Linked DNA regions of Homo sapiens: regions 2 and 3 are each reported to be linked to region 1. The links are microRNA targets in miRTarBase. Many come from high-throughput screens and were not tested one by one. Region 1 holds a microRNA gene; each other region holds the end of a gene's coding sequence.
The links. The annotated mature microRNA hsa-miR-3178 reads GGGGCGCGGCCGGAUCG and lies in region 1 at 1,154-1,170, opposite strand. An mRNA with a match to its seed (bases 2 to 7 or 8) in the 3' UTR can be bound and repressed. Matches are read on the target gene's strand: a 7mer-m8 pairs with bases 2 to 8, a 7mer-A1 pairs with bases 2 to 7 and ends in A, and an 8mer does both.

Region 2: the mRNA of EPG5 is a reported target of hsa-miR-3178. The part of its 3' UTR that is shown has no 7-base or 8-base seed match.
Region 3: miRTarBase lists MALL as a target of hsa-miR-3178. Seed matches in the 3' UTR shown: 7mer-A1 at 1,126-1,132 and 7mer-m8 at 1,272-1,278.

What each region holds. Positions count from the first base shown.
Region 1 is chr16:2,530,826-2,534,670 of GRCh38, forward strand. It overlaps MIR3178 (microRNA 3178), which reads right to left and starts at 1,180; the gene lies at 1,097-1,180. AMDHD2 (amidohydrolase domain containing 2) reads left to right here. Exons shown (of 11, transcript NM_001330449.2): 11 at 1-592. It overlaps CEMP1 (cementum protein 1), which reads right to left and starts at 583. Exons shown (of 1, transcript NM_001048212.3): 1 at 1-583. The coding sequence starts at 248. RefSeq lists enhancers at 986-1,035, 1,814-2,515, 1,816-1,865.
Region 2 is chr18:45,849,894-45,853,235 of GRCh38, reverse strand. EPG5 (ectopic P-granules 5 autophagy tethering factor) reads left to right here. Exons shown (of 44, transcript NM_020964.3): 44 at 587-3,342. The coding sequence ends at 769. Among named protein-coding and RNA genes, the nearest start is that of SIGLEC15, 26 kb to the right of the region's middle.
Region 3 is chr2:110,082,923-110,086,264 of GRCh38, reverse strand. It overlaps MALL (mal, T cell differentiation protein like), which reads left to right. Exons shown (of 4, transcript NM_005434.5): 4 at 508-2,395. The coding sequence ends at 570. Among named protein-coding and RNA genes, the nearest start is that of MIR4436B1, 1.9 kb to the left of the region's middle.

The DNA of each region.
Region 1 (3,845 bases):
AGCAGGCGACGGATGTGGATCCTGACCTCCTGAGAGGTGTGAGGTGCAGGGATACCCACCTCTGCCTTGACGGCCGCGCACCCCTTAGGAAGTGGCTGTCCAGCGCCTGCCTGTGCTGGGCCTGGGAGAGGAGCTGTCTTGCCAGGGCTCCCAGGCAGGGAGAGGCAGGTGAGGTTCTCAGCCGATGTGTTAGAGGTTGAGCATCGCCTGTGCCCAGCTTGCTGGCTGTCAGTGCTTGATGTGCCCATCCTCAGCTAAAACCCAGAGCTGGCATGTTGGTCATCCCCACCTCAGACGGGACGCCCAGTCCAGAGCTGGTGAGCCCTGGGCCAGCCTTTGGGCCTGGCCTGCCCCATTCACCGGCCAGCGCCCCACCTCCCTGGCTGGAGGGTCGGGGAGGGGCTGGCAGAGATGGTTGGTCCACAGGGCTAGCCCTGGGTGGTGGGAGAGGGGCCCAGGGTCAGGGTGAGAGAGAGCTGGGCCAGGGAGCTGCTGCAGGATGATTTTGAGGTGTGGGGGAAGCACTCTTGGTTGGTTTTGGTTTGCTTTTTAAAAATTGTGGTAAAATACATAACAAAAGTAACTATCGTAACCTGAGCAGTTCTGTGACATGAAGTGAATTCACTGCTTTGTGTGACCTTGGCCACCATCATTCCCCACCACTCACTCCCGCTGGGCTCCCAGCCCTGCCCCACCATTCCGCTCCCTCTACAGCTATGGGTTTTACAAAGAAGGATGCAGGGCGCCCTGACTGCGGGGTGAGGGGCAGGCCTGCCCGCGGTGTGGGCATTCGCTGAAGGGGGACGCCCAGGTGTCTGCCTGAGTTACGGGTTGGGGGGTCGGGCATGTGGGGAGGGATGGAGTTGGAGGTGCATGCTCTCAGAGCTGGTAGGGGTGGCCCGTTTCGTCCCGTGTGTGAACTGGAGATGAGACCCGGCGCCTGCGATCCCGCAGACCGCGCCCGGCCGGGTGTCACTTGTGGGCGCACGCTGCCGGGATGCTGGGCCGAGCCCGCGGTTTAAGACCCAGATCTCAGCCAGGTCCCTTTCGCCGTCCGAGCCTCTGCACCTCGTGGGCTCCGAGCACATCCAGGCCAGAGACTGCGTTTGGGGCGTGGGCACGGGAGACCGTCATCAGCCAGGACGCTCTCGACCGATCCGGCCGCGCCCCGCCCAGCCTCGTAGCGCAGGCGCTGAGTCCAGGCTGACGCGCAACTCTGGGAGCGTTGCGGCACGCGGGGCCTTGCCTACTGTGGGAGGGGCTTCTGGGGGCGGGCTTCTGTCGGGCCAATTAGGATCGCCGCAGGGAAGGCACGCGCCGCGGCTGAGCAACAGGGGCGCGCGTCACCTTCTCTAGTTAACCCGCGCGGCCCCGGGCACAGAGCCCGAGGCTGCGCGGTCCCCGGCGGGCCCGCGGACCCCCCCCATCTCTGCGCCCCCCACATCTCTGCGGACCCCGCCTCGCCCCAGCCCTCCCATCCACAACCCTCACAACCTTGCATACCCCGCTACGCTCCCCACCGCGCCCTCACATTCCTGCAGACCCCGTCTCCCCACAACGCTCCCCGCCAACGCTGCGGAGCTCCGCGTCGCCCCAGCGCTCCCTGCCAAGCCCCCCACACCCCTGTAGACCCCGCCTCGCCCCAACCCTCCGAGCTGCTCCCCTTATACCCTTGCGGACCTAGTTTGTTTCGTCCCAGTCCTCCCCGTCGCGTCTCCCACATCCCTGCGGACCTCCCCGCGCCTCGCCTCTCCCTTCTGTTACGTATCACGCACAGGTGGATCCCACTACGACCCAGCTTGGCTCCTGTCCCGCACCTCCGCACCTGGCCTCTAGCCCCGCCCTCACTGTCTTGGGAAATGAAGCGGAGGGGTGGGCCGGACACTCTAGAAGCACCCTGGCTCGGAGCTTCCCTAGCTCGGAGTTGGTTTGGAGCCCAGGCTAGGGACCCAGGGTGGGCGCAGCAGGGGAGATTGGCACCAGAAGCGTGGAGGAAGGGCACCTCTTCAGCCCGGCTTTTCCGCCCCTGGAGTCTGGGACAGCTCCGGAGCGTCCGGGTACTCCCTCCCAGACTGGCCCTGTTCCTTTTATCACATTTATGTCACACACGTTTTTTCTAAATGGGTTTACACTTTTGCTATTACTTTGCAGTTCGGTTTGTGTGTGTGTGACGGAGCCTGGCTGTGTTGCGCAGGCTGGAGTGCAGTGGTGCGATCTCTGCTCACTGCAGCTTCCGCCTCCCGGGTTCAAGCGATTCTCCGCCTCAGCCCCCTTAGTAGCTGGGATTACAGGCGCACGCCACCACACCTGACTAATTTTTTTGTATTTTTGGTAGAGACAGGGTTTCACTATGTTGGCCAGGCTGGTCTTGAATTCCTGACCTCAATTGATTCGCCCGCCTAGGCCTCTGAAAGTGCTGGGATTACAGGCGTGAGCCACTGTGCCCAGCCTTTTTTTTTTTTTTTTTTTAACACGGAGTCTCATTCTGTTGCCCAGCCCGGCGCGATCCTGGCTCACTGCAACCTCAGCCTCCTGGGTTCAAGTGATTCTCCTGCCTCAGCCTTCCCAGTAGCTGGGATTACAGGCATGCACCAACACGCCCAGATTTTTTTTTTTTTTTTTTTTTTTTTTTTTTTTAGTAGAGACAGGGTTTTACCATGTTAGCCAGGCTAGTCTCGAACTCCTGACCTCACGTGATGTGCGTGCCTCGGCTTCCCAAAGTGCTGGGATTACTGGTGTGAGCCACCACGCCCAGTTTTTTTTGTTTGTTTGGTTTTTTTTGAGACAGAGTCTCACTCTGTCGTCCAGGCTGGAGTGCAGTGATGCTACCTCAGCTGACTGCAAACTCACTGAACCTCTCAGGTTCAAGTGATCCTCCTGCCTCAGCCTCCAGTTCCTGGCTAATTTTTTTAGTTTTCGTATAAACGGGGTTTCATCGTGTTGGCCAGGCTGGTCTGTAATTCCTGGCCTCAAGTAATCCACCCACCTCGGCCTCCCGAAGTGCTGGGATTACAGGCGTGAGCCACTGCGCCTTGTCTGCGCCCAGTTTTTGTTTGTTTTTTAAAGAGACGGGATCTCACTATGTTGCCCAGGCTGATCTTGAAGTCCTGGGCTAAATTTTTGTCACTGTGCCTGGCTAATTTTTGTATTTTTAGTATAAATGGGATTTCACCACATTGGCCAGGCTGGTCTCAAACTCCTGGCCTCGTGATCCACCTTCCTCGGCCTCCCGAAGGGCTGGGATTACAGGCGTGAGCCACCGCGCCTGGTCTGCGCCCAGTTTTTGTTAGTTTTTTACGGAGATGGGATCTCACTGTGTTGCCCAGGCTGGTCTTGAACCGCTGGGCTCAAATCATCCTCCTGCTTCTGCCTCCCAAAGTGCTGGGATTACAGGCTTGAACGACCATGCCTAGCCATAATTATCCAGCTATAAGGTCAGCTGATTAATTCGTCTCTCTATATAATAACATATTCACAGGTTGGGAGATTAAGATGAGAACATCTTTGGAGAGGACATTATTCTGCCTTTTAGAGAGAAGGGCCTAGGACAGGAATTCCCAGTGCTCAGGTTTAAAGGAAATATGATGTTCCCATCATCGGTACATGAACGTGCCCCTTTCTCTGCATTCCTACCAACACTGGATATTTTCCACTTTTGGGACTTTTAGCAGTTGTTGAGCCAGCCCATTTTACAGCGGGGATAATTGAGGTTTAAGGAGGGGAAATTACTTGCCTAAGATCTCATGCAACTTTCTGTTTCCTGACTCCCAGTCAAGTCTGATTCTCCCTTGGTATGGCTTATATGGGAGGATATTTACCTGGTGGCTTGGAAACCACTGAATGAC
Region 2 (3,342 bases), not on the chromosome of region 1:
ACCTTCTCACTTACTCTTGGCAGCACTTAGCAACTGGTTCCTCTAGAATTCCTTTCCGTTAGACAGTTTCATATAACATTATCTCATAACCTAGGAACATACCCAACAGCAGATTGAACAGATTTCACCTTAGCAAGATGAGGCTGGTGCCTGGGATTTCCGGTTGCGCCCTAGAACGGAAGGAGTGGACAATCTGGTGGGGAGGACCCCACAGGTGGGACTGGGGAGAACGAGGACAAGGCAGGCTTTAGAAATCGGTGTGGCAGGTGAGGCGCCCAGCAACAAGAGCAGCCTGCCACAGCAGTGGCTCTTGGTAAGGCAAGGTTGGGAAATGGCACAGAACAGAAACAGGGAAGGCTGGGTGTGGGATGCTGCAAAGGCCACAGAGGCTTGGGCTGCTGGCCTCCTTCTGGTTGTGGTTAAGTTAATCAATGCCTGCCTTCCGGACTCCTGGCCTCAGTTCTGTAGGCCTCCTTCCCACAAGGCTCACAGTTGAAGTACACAGTGATAATGGGTGTGCTGTACCTCTGGCAGTCACATTATGTGCCTCTATGGAGTTAACCCTCTCATCTTCCGTGTCTTTTAGGCTCTGAATGCTCTTGAATCCATGGCATCAAGTAAGCAGTATGTTGAATACCAGGATCAAATATTGCAAGCCACCCAATTTATAAGGCATCCTGGCCATTGCCTTCAAGATGGGAAAAGCTTCTTGGCTCTTCTCGTTAACTGTCTGTATCCAGAAGTGCATTATTTGGACCACATACGATAGTTAACACTGAGGCTCTTGAAAAACCCATTGCTGTTTATGTTTACATTTAACTTTGCTGTTGCACAAGTAACTTTGCTCAATTGCACTGTAGAGCTCAGTTTGGCCAATGTGTAGTTGACTGAGATGCAAGTTGGGAGGCGTTAGATATTAGATAATTTTGGGGTGTGTGTGTGTGTGTGTGTGTGTTTTCTTAGCTCTTAAGACCTTCTGGGGACTCTTTAAGTTTTTATATTTATCCACAAGAGAAACTTACTAAGTTCCACTTGGGTGCAGAGCCACTCACAGTTGCCGAATGTCCCAGTCATCTCACAAGACCTCCAGATGGAGTTCTTTGTATGTTTCCACTTCTGTCTCTGTTTTATGTAAATGTTCCAGATCTGACAACCTTGGAAGTCACTCAGTACCCTTACTTTTAAACCCCATTTGTGTTCCTCCAAAGTAAAGAAGTCAATTTTGAAAAATTTCTGCATTTCTCAAATGTGGACAAATACAATAGTTTTAAAGTATTGTTTTTCTCAGAAGGGAGATAAAAATGCCGAGTTAGTTAAAGTGGGTCATGTGTAAAATACGACCACTTGATCGTGATTATAGTGGGCAGTAGAGATGATGACAAGTCAATTTCCATCCAGCCGTGTATCCTCATGGAGAAGCTGCCTGTCTGAATCAGGATGGCAAGCTGGCAGTCTGGGAGGAGCATGTTTTGCACAGATGTTTTGTTTGGTCCACTTGGTGAGGAGTGCAGACAGGGCTGCCTCTCTCTAGTCGGGAGAGTCTGTGCATTCCCTCGGGCCCTGACCCTAGCCTCATTCACATCACTTGCCCCTGTCGACACCTAAGTTTGCACCCTTTGATAGACACCATGTTCGATATCTGAAAGGCTCAGTGTCAGGAGACAGAGACTGAGGGAGACTGAAGACCTGATTCTCTGTTCCCTGCTTGTTTTTTAACTTCAAACTCAGATGAAGCCAATGGACCTGCTGAAACACTTGTCTGTGGAAACTGGGTCAGGTCGGGAGATCTACTGAAATTTGGCTTTTTTTCCATAGCCACGTGCCTTCTGTTGTTGACAGTTCATTCATTACCAAAGCCTGTGTGTAACTTTGCCTTGTTCTGTGGCCATCTTCTTGCTCATGTTATTTCTCCTGGGAATGAGCAGTTTGACTTCTGTTCCCACGTTCCTCATTCTATCAGCTCTAGATGGATTTTGCCTGCATAGCTGGCTTAATATGTCTTTGTGTATGGGTAGTCTGTAGCCTGAGAATATTTACCTAAAAATGTCTAAACAGCCACCAAGAATGTTTATAGGGGTATAGGAATATAGTTAACAGAGTGCTAATCTCTCCTCAAATGTCCTTTTGGAATGCTTCCCCCAAAATTGGGAAGTTGGTAGGAGCTTTTCTTTACTTTGAATTTCTTTACTTGGACAGAACGATTCTGCCTTAAAGACACGCTTTGCAGCTCTGATAAAGAACATCCCTGTTTAGTCTCTTGAGTTTTACAGGCCACAAAATGTCCGTCTCAGAGGGATCTGTCTCAGCTTTTCTTATTTTTGCTTCTCTCCGTTTTCAAAATTAATCATCTTGTTCTCTGTATAAGAAAATTTGAGAAGCTGTGGACAATTTAATAGTCTGATCTGGCAACAGCGATTTTTGTTTGGAAATATTTTGTGTTTTCTTTGAGGAGGATATAATTACTGATATCCTAGGATGTGAAATTTTTGAGTGACAGTATGCACATTTTAAAGAAAATTATGATTAATCTGTATAATGTTTTTTGGTCTGTAAAAATTATAAAAAATAAAATCATTTATCTTTGGTTGTAACTGTTTAAAAACCAAATTATAGGGATATCACACTATCTTGTAAAGTGTTTCAGCTGTTAAAGTTGCTGTAGGTTTTTATGCCTGATGTCATTTAATTTATTTGACATTGAACTTCATTAATAATCAGAGATGGTCAGTGAAAGCGCTTCCTCTTTAACTCTTTCTTGCTTAACCTTGGAAGGTTGACTCAACTCCTAGGTGTCTATGGGAAACTCTGGGCTAGGAACGTGCTATAAAGACACTGAGCTAGTTCAGACATGGCCATGCTGCTGTAGCCTCCTGGGAAAGAAGGGCGGCAGAGAGACCAGCCCGCCTGTTGGCTTGCAGGGGTAATGAGCCTTGGCTTGAAAAAATTGTTGGCCTCCAGAGAGCACGGGGCTGTGGTTTCAGAATCAGTGATGGGTGCCGCACATCAAGACGGGAATCAAGCAAGACCAAGGCCCTGTGGACTGAGCAGCGTGGAGGGCGAACGGCTGCAGGCTCCAGACTTCACCACAGGGTGGCCAACAGTGGCATCGGGACCAAATAAAGATGTCTAACAGCTTCCTGGGAGCAGGAGGAGGCAGGATTCTGGTTGCCATGAAAAACATCTCTCTCCCTCTCCATCACTCCCCATGCTGCAGTGCACAGGTGGGTTGCAGAGGCAGGCTGCATCCCGGAATCATGTTGTCCCACTGCCTATTAATAGAACAAGTGAAGGGCAGAATGCTGGAACACACCAGACATAGAGGGAGGGAGGTCCTGCCAGATG
Region 3 (3,342 bases), not on the chromosome of region 1:
AGGACCCTGGGGCCCACTGGGCTTGTCAGGCTTGTGAGGAAACGTCAGGGGCTCAGTGTGAGCCAGGAAGAGCTGGAGGATGTCTGAACATTCACGAGGAGCTGATAAGCAGCCGCTCAGGGCAGAGTTCTGGGCCAGCGAGGGGAGCTGTAGGAGTGTTCAGAACACAGATTTGCTGGAGGTGGGCAGAGGAGAGCGGGCCTCGGGCAGGAGGTCAGCGTGGGATATGGGCCCAGAGCTGTGGTGGAGGTGAGCCTGCTTCACAGCCAGGTGCAGATGAGGTGGAGACTGCAGTCGGGGCAGGACACCAGGACGGCCCCAGGGAGGCCCTGATGGAGAGTTTCCAGAAGAGGGAGTTGTTGGCCAGGGGTTGCTGCCCTCAGGCCACGCAGGAGGCGAGGAGGCAGGGTCATGCGTGGCCTCCTGGGCAGTGGGGCTGAGGGTACCTGAGGGGTGGGCAGGAGCTGGCGCTGCTGTCTCTAACAGTCACTCTCCACCTCCTTCCAGTTCTTCGCCTTCATCGCCACGCTGCTCTACATTCTCCATGCCTTCAGCATCTATTACCACTGATGCACAGGCGCCAGGCCAAGGGGGAAATGCTCTTTGAAAGCTCCAATTATTGGTCCCCAAAAGCAGCTTCCAACGTTTGCCATCTGGATGACAAACGGAAGATCCACTAAAACGTCCACGGGATTAACAGAACGTCCTTGCAGACTGAGCGATGACACCACACTTTGTTTGGACATTTAAATTCACTCTGCTGAATAGGAGGAAGCTTTTCTTTTTCCTGGGAAAACAACTGTCTCTTGGAATTATCTGACCATGAACTTGCTCTTCTAGACAACTCACATCAAAGCCCTCACTCCACTAATGGAGAATCCTAGCCCCACTAATGCCAAGTCTGTTTGGGGATTTTGCCTCAGCTATGGGCTTCCCTAGAGTAGGTCTAGGGGAATACTCAGTCTGATCTTTTTTTTGTTTGTTTTATTTTGTTTTTTTTGAGACGGAGTCTCGCTCTTCCTCCAAGGCTGGAGTGCAGTGACGCGATCTCCACTCACTGCAGGCTCCGCCTCCCGGGTTCCCGCCATTCTCCTGCCTCAGCCTCCCGAGTAGCCGGGACTACAGGCGCCCACCACCGTGCCCGGCTAATTTAGTTGTATTTTTAGTAGAGATGGGGTTTCACCGTATTAGCCAGGATGGTCTCGATCTCCTGACCTCGTGATCCGCCCGCCTCGGCCTCCCAAAGTGCTGGGATTACAGGCGTGAGCCACCGCGCCCGGCCTGATTCTCTTAAAATTGAAGAGGTGCTGCCAAGGCCTTCAGATCTAACGCAGATGCATAGACCTTGTTCCTGGTACTTGTTCAGCCTGTGCTGGGGAGCCGTGGTCCCGAGTTCCCTGGGAGGCTGACAGGGTCAAGCCACCCTGCCCACCACCCTCCCACTTCCCCTCCCCTTTCCTCTCCAGCATTAGGATTCAAGGGAAATTTGCATGAAGCCAATTTTGAGGGTAGACGTGTGGGGAAAATAAATCATTATACAGTAAGACCTGGGGCTTGAGGGGTGGGGAATGGGGAGGGAAGGGCATAGCCTGCTCCTCCATGAGTCTGACATCTCGGAAACTGAGCAGCTGCCGGACGCCTGGGTCAGGAATCCAAGACCCCACCTCTTAAGGACTGGTTCCTCAGAAAGCACCCTCAGGGAAAAAGGTGAAAACATTACATCCGTGGATTCTCCTGCCACAACCGCATTGGAAGAAAAGGCTGCCGCAACATCTCAGCGAGGAGTGAAGGACCCATGTCCCAGGAACCGCGCTGCGCCACCTGCACTCACCCCCCTCACATTCTCTTAAGCACCCGGTGGCCCTCCGAGGCCTGGCGGAATGGTGGTGCCCACGGGGTTGGGCAAGGGCTCACCAGGACCTCAACGGGCAAAGTTGTGCACACTAAAATATCAAATCAAGGTGCTTGGTTTTAAAGTAAATGTTTTTCTAAAGAAAGCTGTGCTCTTCTGTTGACCCAGACGAATAGGGCACAGCCCTGTAACTGCACGTGCCTTCTGTCATTGGGAATGAAATAAATTATTACGAGAAAGGGACTTGTCCTAACTGGTTTGAGGCCTTACAGTTTTGTATCTACATTTTTCCCCTCCTGGGGTTTGCGGGGACAGGGACAGAACTACAGGAGTCATGGGAAAGAAAATTCTGGCTTCACTACTGCTCACTGCTCACTTTCTGATCACTCTGATACTTTTTTTTTTTTTTTTTTTTTTGCAACCTGATACCTTGAAAAGCTTCTATGTGTCTCTCCTTTTGTTGCCTGGCAGCTGTCTAGGATGATCACTGATTACTATTTACTAAGTAGCCACATGCAAATAAAAGTTGTTTGGTAAAAAGGAGCAGTTGGTCGACTTCATCTTGTTAGCATCTGGAACTGGCCATCAGGTACTAGGTGTTGTCAGTAATTTCAAGAAAAGCACCCCTTGGAGCATTTCACAACCTAAGTTCTCTGAGGGTGGGATCCCAGCCCACCCGGCCTTGCTTCTAGAGCAAGAGCGAAGGGAGGTCACATTTGTCTCCAGGGCTTCGGGTTTATAATGTCATTTGTACTTCAGTAAGGACAGTTTGGGTGCAAGTTCCGGAAACCAAACTCATACAGCTTAGGCAAAAATGGGAGTGCACCAGTAGGGGCTGGGAGAGGTGAAGAGGGCTCAGTAGGAGGAGAGCTGACCCCCGCATGGCTCTCTGCTGCACACTGGCCATCGTCTCTTGCCACACTGCAAGACTTGTCCAAGTCTCAACAAACACCGGCCTCCCATCCCACGTGCAGACACTAGAGGCTCAGCCTGGACCCCCAAAGTCCATCCACCCACAGCTGTTGCAGTGCTGCTTTCTGCCTTGAGGGGCAGCCCTCCTCTCAGCGTAGGGGTCTCCCCAGGCTCTTGTCTTCTGGAGGGAACACCCCGAGGCTCTTGGCAGGCTTCTCAGAGGCCCCAGCAGGAGTGGGCTATCAGGGAACCTGCCCCGATAGTCATGTAGGTTCTTTTCTATTTTTCCTAAGTGTCGGCTGGCTTGAGAAATAAAGGGACAGAGTACAAAAGAAAAATTTTAAAGCTGGGCATCCAGGGGAGACACCACATGTCAGTAGGTTCCGTGATGCCCCACAAGCCGTAAAACCAGCAAGTTTTTATTAGGGAGTTTCAAAAGGGGAGGGAGTGTGCGAATAGGTGTGGGTCACAGAGATCACGTGCTTCACAAGGTAAATAGAATATCAGAAGGCAAATGGAGGCAGGGCGAGATCACAGGACCACAGGATGGAGGCAAAATTAAAATTGCTAATGAGGTT